Homo sapiens: one gene and its partners. The gene in region 4 interacts genetically with the main gene of each other region. Each region holds a gene or a part of one and is shown on either strand. Other genes may lie near its edges.

Region 1 (3,500 bases), on a different chromosome or scaffold from region 4:
TAGACATTCTAGTTACATGAAATCATTGTATACATTTTATACATTTACAGATCTAAAATAGCATGCTGTTTCCTCTTGGTTTACATGAAATAATTGAGAATTTTCTAGGATTGCTTTTTGTATATTAAGTAAATTCTATGTTTGCTATTAATACTTAAATATTCGATGTAGAATCAAAGGATTGATATTTCAGAACACTGAGAAGTACATAAAATCTGGATCTAAATTTATAATTTAAATTTATAATTTAAAGCTATTGTATTAAATAAGTTTATCAGTTAAAAACTGATAAAGAGGTATTAGGATCTCCAGTGTGACTCAGGAGAGAGTTGAGGGTAAAAGAAATGGAGTTAATGAGAGAGATCAAAATATAAAAAGATAACTGATAAAAGAACTTTCATAATAAAACTGTTTCACGAAGGACCTCACAGGCATTTGTGGTTTTGTACTGTGAGACTATATGAAGTTTAAATCTGAGCCAGGTGTGGTGGTACATGCCTGCAATCCTAGCTACTTAGGAGGCAGGAGGATTGCTTGAGCTCAAGAGTTCCAGGTTACAGTAAGTTATGATCTCACGCCAGGGCACTCCAGCCTGGGTGAAAGAACAAGACCGTATCTCTAAAAAAAGTTAAATTATAAAAGAAGTATAATCTGTAAAATATTTAGTGAAATTGGCTTAGATTTGCCCAGACTTCCCCTTTGGCATTATATTTCAGGAATGAGAAAAATAATTAGCATAGCATTTAGAAGAAATGGGGGGAATTTCAAGGTTACTAAATAAATCAGGGTTAGTATAAGAGGAAGCAGAGGCTTTGAAGTCATGGCTTGCATTCTTGATTTGGATATTGGTTTTCTCTTTATAATTTTTCTGTGATGACGCCTTTTGCCACCTAACACAGGTAAATGTGAGTTAAGCCCCATATGTGTTAGTGGACTCCTGAATCTTTTGTTGGCATTTGCTTCTGTTTGCCTAAGCACATTTGTAAATGTCTAAGCTTCAAATTAAGAAGCTATGTGGTTGCTACCTGATTATATTTAGTCAATAAACTTACTTTCATATTTGTTTTAGAGCCAGACATAGGCATGCCTGAACCAGATGCTCAGAGATTCTTCCATCAACTCATGGCAGGGGTGGTAGGTATAGTTGTCTATTTCCCTTTTACTTAAAATTAGAGTGAATACATTACATTACCAAATTCTAGTGTGTTTCTCTCTGCATCCCTCTTAGGTTTATCTGCATGGTATTGGAATAACTCACAGGGATATTAAACCAGAAAATCTTCTGTTGGATGAAAGGGGTAAGTTTAGCATTTTATCACTACCTAAAATAAAATAAAATAATTACCTAAATTATTTTAATTACCTAATTATTTTAATATAGCCATACAAGGCAAAATCAAGTCTTTTTGCATTACTGGAATTTCAAGACAAGATCTGAAAAATCAAGGAAATTTTGGAGACTTCGTATATTTGGAAATCACAAGTCTCATTTTGCAATACAAGTGCGGATCAGGTAGAGAAATCTGACCTAGGTGCAAGCCTAGCTCACTATATGTATAAGAATAATTTTTTTTTTTTTGATACAGGCTCACTGTGTTGTCCAGTCTGGGGTGCACTGTATTATCACAGTTCACTGCAGCCTTGACCTCCTAGGCTCAAGCAATCCTACCATCTCAGCTTCCCGAGTAGCTAGGACCAACCACAGGCAGGTGCCACCATGCCTGGCTAATTTTTGATTTTTTGAAGAGGTGGAGTCTTCCTGTGTTGCTCAGGCTAGTCTTGAACTCCTGGACTCAAGCAGTTTACCAGCCTTAGCCTCCCAGAGTGTTGGGATTATAGACGTGAGCCACCATGCCTGGCCAAGAATAGTTTAAAATAATCCTTTAATGGATTAATAAAGGGAAGTTCCTGTGGAATACCCTGGACCTTAGTCTTGTCCTGTTCACTCTTTTTTTATGTATGACGTGGATAAAAATGTAAGAAATTTAGTTATATTTTCTGAATGTCATCAAATTGAGAAGGATGGATAGCGAAAGCTTTAAGCTTACAGGGTCAGAATCAAAAAAGAAATGTCAGCTGTATGAGGCAGTAGTTTTTGTCTGGTTTAATGCTTTATTCTTAGTATTAGAATAGTGCTTAACAAATGGTCAGCTTTTTTTTTTTTTTGAAACAGAGTCTTGCTGTGTTGCCCAGGCTGGAGTGTAGTGACATGATCTCGGCTCACTGTAACCTCTACCTCTCTGGTTCAGGTGATTCTTGTGCCTTAGGCCCCTGAGTAGCTGGGATTACAAGCCTGAGTCACCACACCTGGCTCATTTTTATATTTTTAGTAGAGATGGGGTTTTGTCATATTGGCCAGGCTGGTCTCGAGCTCCTGGCCTCAAGTGATCTGCCTCCCTTGGCCTCCCAGAGTGCTGGGATTATAGGTGTGAGCCGCTGTACCCAGCCTATACATGCTTTTTTCTTATGTGCATATGGATTTTACTTTTTACCCCTTTAAACTGAGTTTATATGACATAAAAATCTTTATTTTTATTTAAAACTTTAAAAATTCAGGTACACAAAAATTCTTATGTATTATAATGAAATGTAAATATATGTATATCAACCCACCTGGTTTAAAAATACAACATTATTCGTATATAAGAATGCTCACAGTGGTGATGTTTTTAATATAGCAGGAAACTAACCCAAATGTCTGTCAACAATAAATTATGAAATGCATGGCTTTTCAAGCCATGTCACAAGCAGTGACACAAGCATGTCACAAGCAGTGACATGGATGAATTTCAGGTATATAATGATGTAGAGCAAAAAGAGACAGTTGCAAAAGAATTCATATGGTCTGATTCTGTTTATACAAAGTTCAAAAATATGTAAAACCTAGTATATTGTTCAAGTATGTAAACATGGAGAAAAAAACATGCAGAAAAGCAAGGGTATAATAAAACCAAATTCAGAATGGTCTAAGAAAGTAGGGGAGGGAATGTATTTAAGGAAGTATTTAAAGATTTCAAAGGAAATAGAGCATTGTTTTTCTAAAGTGAGTGGGTGTTTATTACATTGTTATTCTTTATATCTTGTATTAATATACAAGATATAATTCTTTGTTTCTATTTAATATTTAGGAGTCTTTTAAAAAAAGAAATAAAATGTTACCAGTATTTAATGTCCTCCTGTTTATTTCATCACAAATATATTCTTCCTTTGTTTTTCTAAGAGCTAAACACATTCCTACATTTAAATTTTATTATGTGCAGTTCTCTAACATAGCTGAGTATTATGTTGCAGACATAACAAAGTCCAAGGAATACTATAGTTATCCATTAGTATTTTAAGTGATTACTACTCATAAGTAATTTGAAACTCAATCTCAGTGGTTTGTCCAATAGTGTCATATTTAACTACTGAAAAGATAATCAACTGGGTGCAGTAGCTCATGCCTGTAATCCCAGAGGCTGAGGTGGGACGATTGAGTGATTCTAGGAGTTTGAGACCAG
Region 2 (3,500 bases), on a different chromosome or scaffold from region 4:
CAGCTCGCTGCAACCTCTGCCTCCCGAGTTCGAGCAATTCTCCTGCCTCAGCCTCCCGGGTAGCTGGGATTATAGGTGCCTGCCACCAGGTCCAGCTCATTTTTGTATTTTTAGTAGAGACAAGGTTTCACCAAGTTGGTCAGGCTTGTCTTGAACTCCTGACCTCGTGATCCGCCCATCTTGGCCTCCCAAAGTGTTGGGATTACAGGCGTGAGCCACTGCGCCTGGCCAGTTTTTTAAGGAATCTCCATATTGTTTTCCACAGTAGTTGTACTAGTTTACATTCCCACCAGCAGTGTATAAGAGTTCCCTTCTCACCACATCCATGCCATTGTCTATTTTTTTAATTATTATTTTTAAATTATGGCCATTCTTGCAGGAGTAAGGTGGTATCTCATTGTGGTTTTAATTTGCATTTCCCTGATAATTAGTGATGTTGAGCATTTTTTCTTATGTTTGTTGAAAATGTGTGAAATGCCACCTTTTAATACATTGGAAACCAATAATGTGATAATTTATGCTACCAGGTTAACTGGTTTTGCCACAGACTAGAATAAAACTCTGTTTGCCATCTTTGTCACATACTTTATGTCTGTGTGTCATTGATTAGGAAGGTTGTGTTAATGCACAGGCCTTTTGTAGAATTCAGGCCTGTACATGTTGGCCTCCAAAGCTGTGCAGCAAGTGTGCCATCGTGGCAGGTGCAGCCAGCCCAGCACATCTGCCTAGTGTGTGCTTTCCTCCTGACCCAAGAGTGTTATGCAGTGACCCAGCAACACAAAACAGGCAGAGAGGTCATAGTACTCTATTCCAGTTTTATTGCTTGCTGTCAGTTGTGGATACTTTTGTCCTTATTTTTGATAAAGAATTCATGATAAGGATAGCTGTTGTTATTGTTAGTGATTAAATTTTGAAATAAACATTGCTTATCATTTCTTTTTCAAGCTTCTGGGGCAGTTTTAGGAGGATCCTGAGGTGACTAGGAGAGCTATTAAAACTAATTTGGAACAATTTACCTTTGTGACTTATTGGATCTGTACACCTAAAACACAGAATAAATTGGATATTAAGGCTGATATAATGCTCTTGTTTACTATAACCTTTCATTTAAAATATTTATATTAAAAATAGCCTCATTGTTCTCATTGTCCTTATGAGTACATGCTGCATAAATTTAACAATTAACTTTTTTTAAAAAATGAATTATTTACTTTATATATTTATTGTAAATTCATTTGAAAAACTGGATTTCCTACTAAAAAACTAGTTGAATGTCGTCACTCCTAGGCAATTTGCTCTGCCTCTCGGCTTGAATGTCCACCTTGAGCCTGTGTGTTTCAGTCTTGACCTTGTATGTCAACTGTTCTCCCTGGCAAAGTCAGCCTCCTGTGGTGCTCCAGACTGTTGGTGTAGCATCAGTGATGGTCATGCCTTTACACCACTGTAACAGTAGATGCCATTGGCGGGGGTGGCGTTAGGCAGAGAGGAGTCACCAAACAGCAGTGATGGCAGAAACTTCATGTTTTCAACTGGGGACTTGTCACTTAGGAGGACTTTGTAGTTCCCTTTAATTTTCTGTCATTGTTAGAGGCCACTCTGTTTCCTTCATGTATGCTCTCATGGTGTCCTGCAAATCTTGTTCTGAGCTCTGCTGAAATACGGGGATATAAAGGTCTTGCCTGCTCACTGGATACATTTGTTGTAATAACTTCCTGTTATTTAATAATTCCTCATTCCTCATGACTATGATTTTACTCATAGCATTCTATTGTCTCAGCCTTGTCATTTGACCAGGTAGTATGTATGCTGTTTGAAGACTCTTTAACGTTGCCTATCAGTAGGCTACTGGTAGTGGTTTCTTTAAAGAGAAAATGGAAAACGTGAGAGAAGGAGATTAGCTGAAGACTCCGTAGGTCTTCATAAGCTGGCACTCCCTTGGCACGATAATCAAGGCCCAGACACTCACTGTGCTTGGCTTCTCAGGCACAGATACTCAGCTTTGTCTGTACACCTGGTTAGTCAGTGTATTCTCTTGCTTGTAGAAAGCCAAAGTATAATTAAGAGATTGATTAGTAAGCATGATATTAGCAAGGGAAATGAGTTGAATGATCCCGGTGACTCATGTTAGCAGACCAGTGAGGTGGGCTTGCATCCCTAGCAGGTGCACCCCTGCTTCTGAATGAGAGGCAGTGTGATCCAGACTTACTCTTAGGTTTTTATTTTCTAGGCATCACACAGGCTGCTTTTTTCCCTTGTGTCACAAACTTTCCTAAATTGTTTGGGTTATAGTATGTTTGTTTTAATCTTCAGTCTTTATAACAAACCTTGCTTTTCCTGCTTTAATTTGGGAGTATATTTTATCCTTCTCACTTTAAGATTTCTTTTTTTAAACCTCAGTGGTACGGTACATTTTTACTAATGGTGAGTCTCAGAGGATCACCTTATTGTCTCCATCCCCCACCCAGTATTCTCCCCATAATCTCTGTCCCACCACCCCTCGCCAAGAATCCTTTAGCATAGTTTCTCAGAACAATGTGGCAAAGATGTCAGTGGTTGGTGCTTTCATAAAATTCTTTTTGAATATTGTGTTCAAAAAGGATCATGATGGTATCTGGCTTTTCTGGATTTAAGTCATAAAATTAAATTTTAAAAAATCAGAACCACATCAGAATTCTATCCAGTTATTAAAAACTGTTTTTAAATAGTGTTTAGTGACATGTGAAGATGCTCATGATACAACTCCTTTTGGGGTGGTACCTGAGTAGCTCTTCTTAAGAAGATTCTCAAGTATTTCTGATGTATACATACTCACCGCTGTGTTCAGCAAGAACAAACAGACTATGAAACAGAATTTGCAGAAGATGGGAGCCAAAATTTGAGGTAGTTTTTCATCTCATACACATATTTGTCCACCGGCTGTGTCTGCCCTACTTCACTGTCTTCCTTCTACCTTATTTGGGGGAATTCCTCTCTTGACTCAAACTACATGGTACATATTGGAGCTGCCCTCTTCTTACAGATGCCAGGCCATAGGCATGACACTTGACCCAGTCCAGGCCAATTAGGATTCTTTCCTGGGATTTTTCAAATTGGAGCTGGGAGAGAGAAACGCGCATTTTACTGAAGTATAGGCTGAGAATTCATGAGCCTAGAGCTAGCTTCCTGAAGCTCCTACAGAGGACCTGGTCTCAGAGAGTGATGTTAATCCCCAGAGAAAAGCAGAGAGGCTGAAAGAGGTCTATGGCCAGTTGCCTTTAAAATAAATAAATAAATAAAAATAAATAAAGAGATGGCAGTCTCTGTATGTTACCCAGGCTGGATTCAAACTTCTGGTCTCAAAGAATTCTTTTGCCTTGGCCTCCCAAGTAGGTGGTACTACAGGTGCGCACCACCACACTGTCAGCCAGTTGCCCTTTTGTGCTAGATTTGTCCCTATTTTTCTCCTGATTTGATGTGAGCTAATCTCTATTTGTGCTTAAACTATTAATTTGAGTTAAACT
Region 3 (3,500 bases), on a different chromosome or scaffold from region 4:
AAAATCAAAGCACTTTCAATTAAACTATATAATTTAGTCCTTACAAGAATGCCACAGGGCAAGCAACCAGTCAGGCCTTGGTAGTCGTGCTTCCTAGAAGAAAAGACTGAGGTTCAGAGAGTTGGATAGAGTATCAGATTTGGGATCAGTGGCTAGTCCAATGTGATTTCCATCCTTTCTTCTGAGAGAAAGCATAAGAAGGCCAAGAGGATGGTGGAAAAGCACAAGTCACCTGCCTGAGAGTCAACAGGGCGGGGGGTCTCTTTCTCAGTTTGTTCCTCTAAGTTATGGCAAATGTTTTTTGAGCTGTGATTATTGAGAATGGGGGCTGAAGTTCAACATGTAGTTGGCATGAGGGAAGTAATTATGATTGAAGAAAAGATTTGGGTGAAATCTAGTGTTCTTCCCTGCAAAGGGGGTTGTTCTCACGGATTCTTATGGTGCCATGTTTCTCAGAATTTGTAGTTTCAGTTACTTATATTTGCACACCTGACTTTAGATGAGCTCCAGAATAGCAGTTACTAATTAAGGATGAGCATTTAGAGTAGATAAAAGTGGCAGGAACAGCAAGACTCACTCCCAGAGAGCCTCACTACAGGTCTAATAGGTGAGGAAATTCCCCATGTTTCCCATTTTTCTTCATTACCTCCCTGTGGGGCAAGCACTGCCATTATTCATGAGTAAACTGTCTGAGTTATAGATAAGTAATGACATGAAACTTCACAAACACGCTGAGCACAGTGGCTCACGCCTGTAATCCCAGCACTTTGGGAAGCCGACGTGGGTGAATCACGAGGTCAGGAGTTCGAGATCAGCCTGACCAACATGGTGAAACCCTGTCTGTACTAAAAATACAAGAAATTAGCTGGCCATGATGGTGGGCACCTGTAATACCAGCTACTCGGGAGGCTGAGACAGGAGAATCGCTTGAACTTGGGAGGCAGAGGTTGCAATGAGCTGAGATCATGCCACTGCACTCCAGCCCAGGCGGCAGTGCAAGACTCCATCTAAAAAAAGAAAAAGAAAGAAAGAAAAAAGAAAAAAAGAAAGTTCACAAACAGGCCTGATTTCTACCCAGGGAACCACTGTTATCAGAGATTGGGGTTTGGAATCTTAAGCAACAAACACATGTTTATTCTCTTCCTTCCTGATGGCTTGCTCAGAGGACCTGTTTCCATTGCCCACTTTTTTTTTGAGACAGAATCTTGCTCTGTCACCCAGGCTGGAGTGCAGTGGCGAGATCCTGGCTCACTGCAACCTCTGCCTACTGGGTTGAAGCCATTCTCCTGCCTCAGCCTCCCGAGTAGCTGGGATTATAGGTACCTGCCGCCATGCCTGGCTAATTTTTTGTATTTTTAGTAGAGATGGGGTTTCATCATGTCGGCCAGGATGGTCTTGAACTCCTGACCTCAAGTGATCTGCCCACCTCAGCCTTCCAAAGTGTTGGGATTACAGATGTGAGCCACCACGCCCGGCCTCATTGGCCACTTTATATGTCAGTAAATAATCTTTCCTGGCAGAGGGTCCACTGTATCTGGAGGCACTGAAGGAAATCTGGGAGTGTCTGGCCAGGGCAAAGCACTGCTTAGAGCTTGCACAGGAAAAGCAGTGAGCCCTTCTTTTAAGCTGGAGAAAGCTTTAAAGATGCATCTTTGGCAAGTCTTGCCAAAGAAATATGGGTTCTAAATGTGATAAAACCAAAGACATCAAGCTGGCTCTGGAGGCCTTGTTTGAAGTTTGCTGAGTGGATTGTCAGTGGGAGGCTGATATTTATATGTACAAACACACAAGCATTACTGCTAATTGTGGTAAATCAGGCTGGCCAGCCTGGCTCTGGGGCCCACTGTGCCTGCCACCGCAGCAGTGTGGAAGCCTTGCATCCCAGGCACATGTCAGGATCCTCGGAGGCCATCAGCCAGCCAGCATTGTGTGAATTGCATTTGGGTTCACAGCACTGTAATTGTGTTTCTCCTGCTGTGGTGAGCAAAGGAGGAAAATGGAAGGAGGAGGTATAATTTGCCCTAGGAAATAGTCAGGCAAGTAGGTGGCACACAGGGGTGGGATATGGCTAAAACACTGACCTTCCCTTGAGAGAGACCATATGGTGAAGTGGAGAGGGCATGGCGTTTGTATCACACGACCTTGTGTTCAAATCCTGGCTCTGTCACTGGCTGTGTGACTTTGGGTCATTTGCAAAACCTCTCTGAGCCTCAACTGCCACTTCTTAAAATCAGCTCTAAGTAATCACAGGGTTATTCTTCACAAACACAGCATGCACATGCAAACTTTGGCTTAGTAAATAATGGTTTCTCCTTCTCTTACTTTGTTTTCTACATACCCCACTCCCCTTCCTGTGAGGAGCCTTCCACCTTTTTCTCTGTGTTCTCTTCCTCTCCCATTTTCCTGGTAGCATTCAATAAAACAGAAATCTGATTTCTGCAAAGTAGGCCACCTTACGGTAGAAATACATGATTAGGCCCCACCAAAAACTTTGATTAGGCTATTATCTTCTGGATCCTGGATCCCCTCCAACCAAACCAAACCCAACTAGGGCTAAACACAGCAATATATGAATACATTGAATTTCTCTCTCACTCTTTCTTTTTTTTAAACCAGTTTACTCAGGAATCACATGCACACATATTTTAGCTTCCAAAGCCAATGATGGAACAAATTGTGTCCCATTAGGCTCACTCCATTGTATGAGTTAGCATCAGAGGAGTTCATACCAGAGTGACTTCATCTTGAATAGGGCCTAGGTAAGAAGAGGATGAGACCTGCTGGGCTGCATTCCCAGGAGGTTACACATTTGTAGTCACAGGAGAGAAAGGAGTTGGTATAGGAGTTGATAGATACAGGTCATAAAGACCCCAGTGATAAAACAGGTTGCAGGCCAGGTTTGGTGGCTCATTCCTGTAATCATAGTACTTTGGGAGGCCAAGGCAGGAAGATTGCTTGAGCCCAGGATTTCAAGATGAGCCTGGACAACATAGTGAGACCTTGTCTCTACAAACAATAATTTTAAAAACATGAGCTGGGCATGATGGTGCAGGCCTATAGTCCCAGCTACTGGTCTGAGGGGCAGTTGGGTGGCAGGCTGAGATGGGAGGATGGAGGCTGCGGTGAGCTGAGATCAGGCCACTGCACTCCAGCCTGGGTGATGGAATAAGACCCTGTCTCAAAAATAGATAAATAAATAAATAAATAAGCCAGCAAAACCAGAATGCAGTGAAGAAGCTGGCCAAAACCCACCAAAACGAAGATGGTGATGAAAGTGACCTCTGGTCATCCCTACTGCTTATTACACACTAATTATAATGCATTAGCATGTTAAAAGACACTCCCACCAGTGCCATGGCAGTTTACAAATGCCATAGCAATGACCAGAGATACTCTATATGGTCTAAAAAGGGGAGGAACCCTCAGTCCTGGGAATTACCTGTCCCTTTCAGGGAAAACTCATGAATCTTCTACCGCTTGTTGAGCGTATAATCAAGAAA
Region 4 (3,500 bases):
GGCTTGGTGGCTTACGCCTGTTATCCCAGCACTTTGAGAGGTCAAGTAGGGCAGATCCCTTGAGGTCAGGAGTTTGAGACCAGCCTGGGCAACATGGCAAAACCATTATCCAGGTGTGGTAGTCCACACCTGTAGTCCCAGCTGCTTAGGAGCCTCAGAAGGATTGCATGAGCCCGGGAGGTGGAGGCAGCAGTGAACCGAGATTGTACCACTGCACTCCAGGCTGGGTGTCAGAGTGAGACCCTGTCATACACACACACAAAGATTGAAATACTTCATAGAGAGGCATCATGTAACCCTGTATTCTGGAATTCTTTTCCTCTTTCCCTAACTTCCCACTTGTAGGGCAATAAACTTGACAAGATTGTGACTGCACTGGCATAAATTACTCCTAGGGCTGCCAGAAGGAGCAGGTAGTATAGCTTTGACCTAAATCTGTTGCTTTGTCTCCTCCAGACTGGTATTCTGAATAAGCATCTTCAGGATCTCATGGAGGGCTTGACAGCCAAGGTATTCCGTACATACAATGCCTCCATCACGCTACAGCAGCAGCTAAAAGAACTGACAGCCCGTAAGTATTGCTTGGCCAGATAGGGCCCACACCCCTACTAATGGTATCCGGTGACCTTGCTTATCTAAGGCCTAGAGTCAGTTCTACTTTTTTTCCCTACCATTGTGGTCAGACACTTTTTCCCTTTAGACCTCTAGTAGCGAGATAATGCTTTGTTGTATAAACATAGGATCAATGCTGTTTCCCCCTTCCCACCCCAACTTCAAGATTAATTTCATGGAATGCTGACAGCTTTTCACCTGCTACAAAAATGCCTGCATTTGTGTTTTATACATATATTACTTAAAAGCCCACAGAGTGAAGACAGTGCTGTGATGTTCTGTTAAATTGGAGAGAGTAAAGTTGTCATGGTTACCAGAAAAATACAGGAACAAGTCCTTTCCTTGAGGTTTCTGTCATTTTTTTCCCATAAGAGAGTAGATACTTTCTATAGCTGATTTTTAGAATATTATCACCAAGATCCACGGGCTTTTTTTTTCCTGGAGCCCAGTCACTATTGAATTTCCACTGCCCTCTGTAAATACATCAGATGGCCTTAGAATATGAACCAGAAAAGCCAGAGGTAGGTATGTTGAGGGTCAGTATTTTAAGGTGGTATAAAGAATGCCACACTATACAAATAAAAACAATTTTTTTGGATGGCATTTTTAATTTTTCTTTTTAAATAAGATACTACCAGGCCATGTGCAGTGGCTCACACCTGTAATCCCAACACTTGGGTAGCCGAGGCAGGAGAATCACTTGAACCCAGGAGTTCCAGACCAGCCTGGGCAATGTAGTGAGACCTTGTCTCTACTAAAATTTCTAAAAATTAGGCAGGTGTGGCGGTGTGCACCTGTCATCCCAGCTACCTGGGAGGCTGAGCCCAGGAGTTTAGGGCTGTAATGAGCTACGACCATACCACCGCACTCCAGCTTGGGTGACAGGGTGAGACGCTATCTCTAAAATAATAATAATAACCATAATAATACTACCAACTGTGGCTTAATTTTTTTTTTTTTTTTTTTTTTTTTGAGACGGAGTCTTGCTGTCACCCAGGTTGGAGTGCAGTGGCGCGATCTCGGCTCACTGCAAGCTCCGCCTCCTGGGGTTCACGCCATTCTCCTGCCTCAGCCTCCCGAGTAGCTGGGACTACAGGTGCCCGCCATGTCGCCCGGCTAATTTTTTGTATTTTTAGTAGAGACAGGGTTCACCGTGTTAGCCAGGATGGTCTCGATCTCCTGACCTTGTGATCCGCCCGCCTCGGCCTCCCAAAGTGCTGGGATTACAGGTGTGAGCCACCGCGCCCGGCCAAAATTTTTAAACTTTTAACGTCCCTTCAATTCCTCGTTCTGTTCTGGCTACATTGGGTGGAGAGGTGGGGAGGTAGGAAGTGGCCAGTATAGAACTTATGAATATGGGCAACAAACCATAGTAATATCAGCAGCACCTATGATGAGCATATGGGTGGGGAGGAAGCAAGGAGATGAAGGGTCCCTAGCCAAGTTCCCTGAGTAAAAAGAAAGGTGTAGATTTTATTATATTACCTAGACTCAGAGTTCCTCTTGTGATAGGAATTTACCCAGGCCAAGCTTACATATAAACTTCCTACTATCATTTTCTTAAGACTGTTGACTCAAATTTTGACCTTAGTCCTTGGGGGCAATTTGAATTAATCATCTGAGTAAGATAAGAGCCAGCAAAATCATGGGGACGAGGCACTGGGGGAAGACATACTGTGTGTTCACTTTTGGTGTACAAACTGACCCTCTTGCTACCATGTTCCTTTCTTTACAGCGGATGAGAACATCCCAGCGAAGATCCTTTCTTATAACCGTGCCAATCGAGCTGTTGCAATTCTTTGTAACCATCAGAGGGCACCACCAAAAACTTTTGAGAAGTCTATGATGAACTTGCAAACTAAGGTATCTTGGATAAAATGAAGGGAACTGTGTCTGCTGTGGGCAGATTATCTGCGAATGAGAGGATTCAGGGCTGAGATATCAGCAGGCCAGTGCTGGGTCTGTTGTAGAAGGTCTATGCTAAAGATAAACAAATGGAAATATGATAGTAGTTAATCTCTGATCAAGATACTGAATATCAGAGTATCCATTATTCAAGAAATCTTTATTCTACGCATAGAAGTTCTATACTGGCCACTCCCTATTTTGAAAAACTAACTTTGGTGTACATTCTAATTGCTAATTACTGTCCTTATTGTACATGAGGAAAGTGGATTTAAAGAGAGTCTTCATAATTCCTTGCTACAGCCCAGAAATACAGCCATTTCCAAATTAGATTGTTTCAAATTGAAAAGATGATGAAACAATTATATATTTAAAGTCTTTCAAATCCTAGCATAGCTATTTTTATTTTTACGCATTCCACATGAATCATATTTTTATATAGTTCATCATCAAACATCTGTTGAATACTGGCCGTGTGCCAGACAACTTGCTGCCCTAAAGGGAAAGACTGGTGTGCAAATAGGTGCTATTCCTTGTCCCTGAGCCTCTTTCCTCCTCCTAACTCCGCCTGGTACTGAGCTTTTAAACCATAAGGCACTTAACATTTGATGATGAACATTTTTGTGTTAGCAGTGACTTCATAACTAATTCATCCTAACATGGTGGTCCACAGTGAGAATTTGCAGATATTTCATTATAGAACAGATACACAGGGTTAAAAAGGAAACAAATTATATTGAAATACAGTTATCAAAATACATTTTAAAGTCCGATAATAGATGTGCTTCCTTATTAAGGTCTTGAGGTGGCCTGTAGTAAATTTCAAGGTAGTAATTAATTAATATCAATGATACTTTAAGATTTCTGCAGCAATTCAAATATGAAATGAAGATGTCTAACATCTATTGATGATAAAGTCATAAGTGCTGCTGCTATTACTATGGTTTGTTCCCCATATTCATAACTGAAGAAGAAATACTAAA

What was found. Genes that interact genetically often act in the same process or in processes that back each other up.
Region 1: changes in TOP1 (region 4) and CHEK1 are lethal when combined (synthetic lethality), as found in Homo sapiens cells (one large-scale study listed by BioGRID).
Region 2: changes in TOP1 (region 4) and MAP3K4 are lethal when combined (synthetic lethality), as found in Homo sapiens cells (one large-scale study listed by BioGRID).
Region 3: changes in TOP1 (region 4) and PDGFRA together harm fitness more than expected from each alone (negative genetic interaction), as found in Homo sapiens cells (one large-scale study listed by BioGRID).

Annotation. Positions count from the first base shown.
Region 1 is NC_000011.10:125,628,163-125,631,662, forward strand, and holds part of CHEK1 (serine/threonine-protein kinase Chk1), read left to right. Parts: intron 1-1,069; coding exon 1,070-1,134; intron 1,135-1,228; coding exon 1,229-1,298; intron 1,299-3,500. UniProt on the Homo sapiens protein: Serine/threonine-protein kinase which is required for checkpoint-mediated cell cycle arrest and activation of DNA repair in response to the presence of DNA damage or unreplicated DNA.
Region 2 is NC_000006.12:160,994,769-160,998,268, forward strand, and holds part of MAP3K4 (mitogen-activated protein kinase kinase kinase 4), read left to right. Parts: intron 1-3,500. UniProt on the Homo sapiens protein: Component of a protein kinase signal transduction cascade. Activates the CSBP2, P38 and JNK MAPK pathways, but not the ERK pathway. Specifically phosphorylates and activates MAP2K4 and MAP2K6.
Region 3 is NC_000004.12:54,235,793-54,239,292, forward strand, and holds part of PDGFRA (platelet-derived growth factor receptor alpha isoform 1 precursor), read left to right. Parts: intron 1-3,500. UniProt on the Homo sapiens protein: Tyrosine-protein kinase that acts as a cell-surface receptor for PDGFA, PDGFB and PDGFC and plays an essential role in the regulation of embryonic development, cell proliferation, survival and chemotaxis.
Region 4 is NC_000020.11:41,115,822-41,119,321, forward strand, and holds part of TOP1 (DNA topoisomerase 1), read left to right. Parts: intron 1-456; coding exon 457-571; intron 572-2,347; coding exon 2,348-2,475; intron 2,476-3,500. UniProt on the Homo sapiens protein: Releases the supercoiling and torsional tension of DNA introduced during the DNA replication and transcription by transiently cleaving and rejoining one strand of the DNA duplex.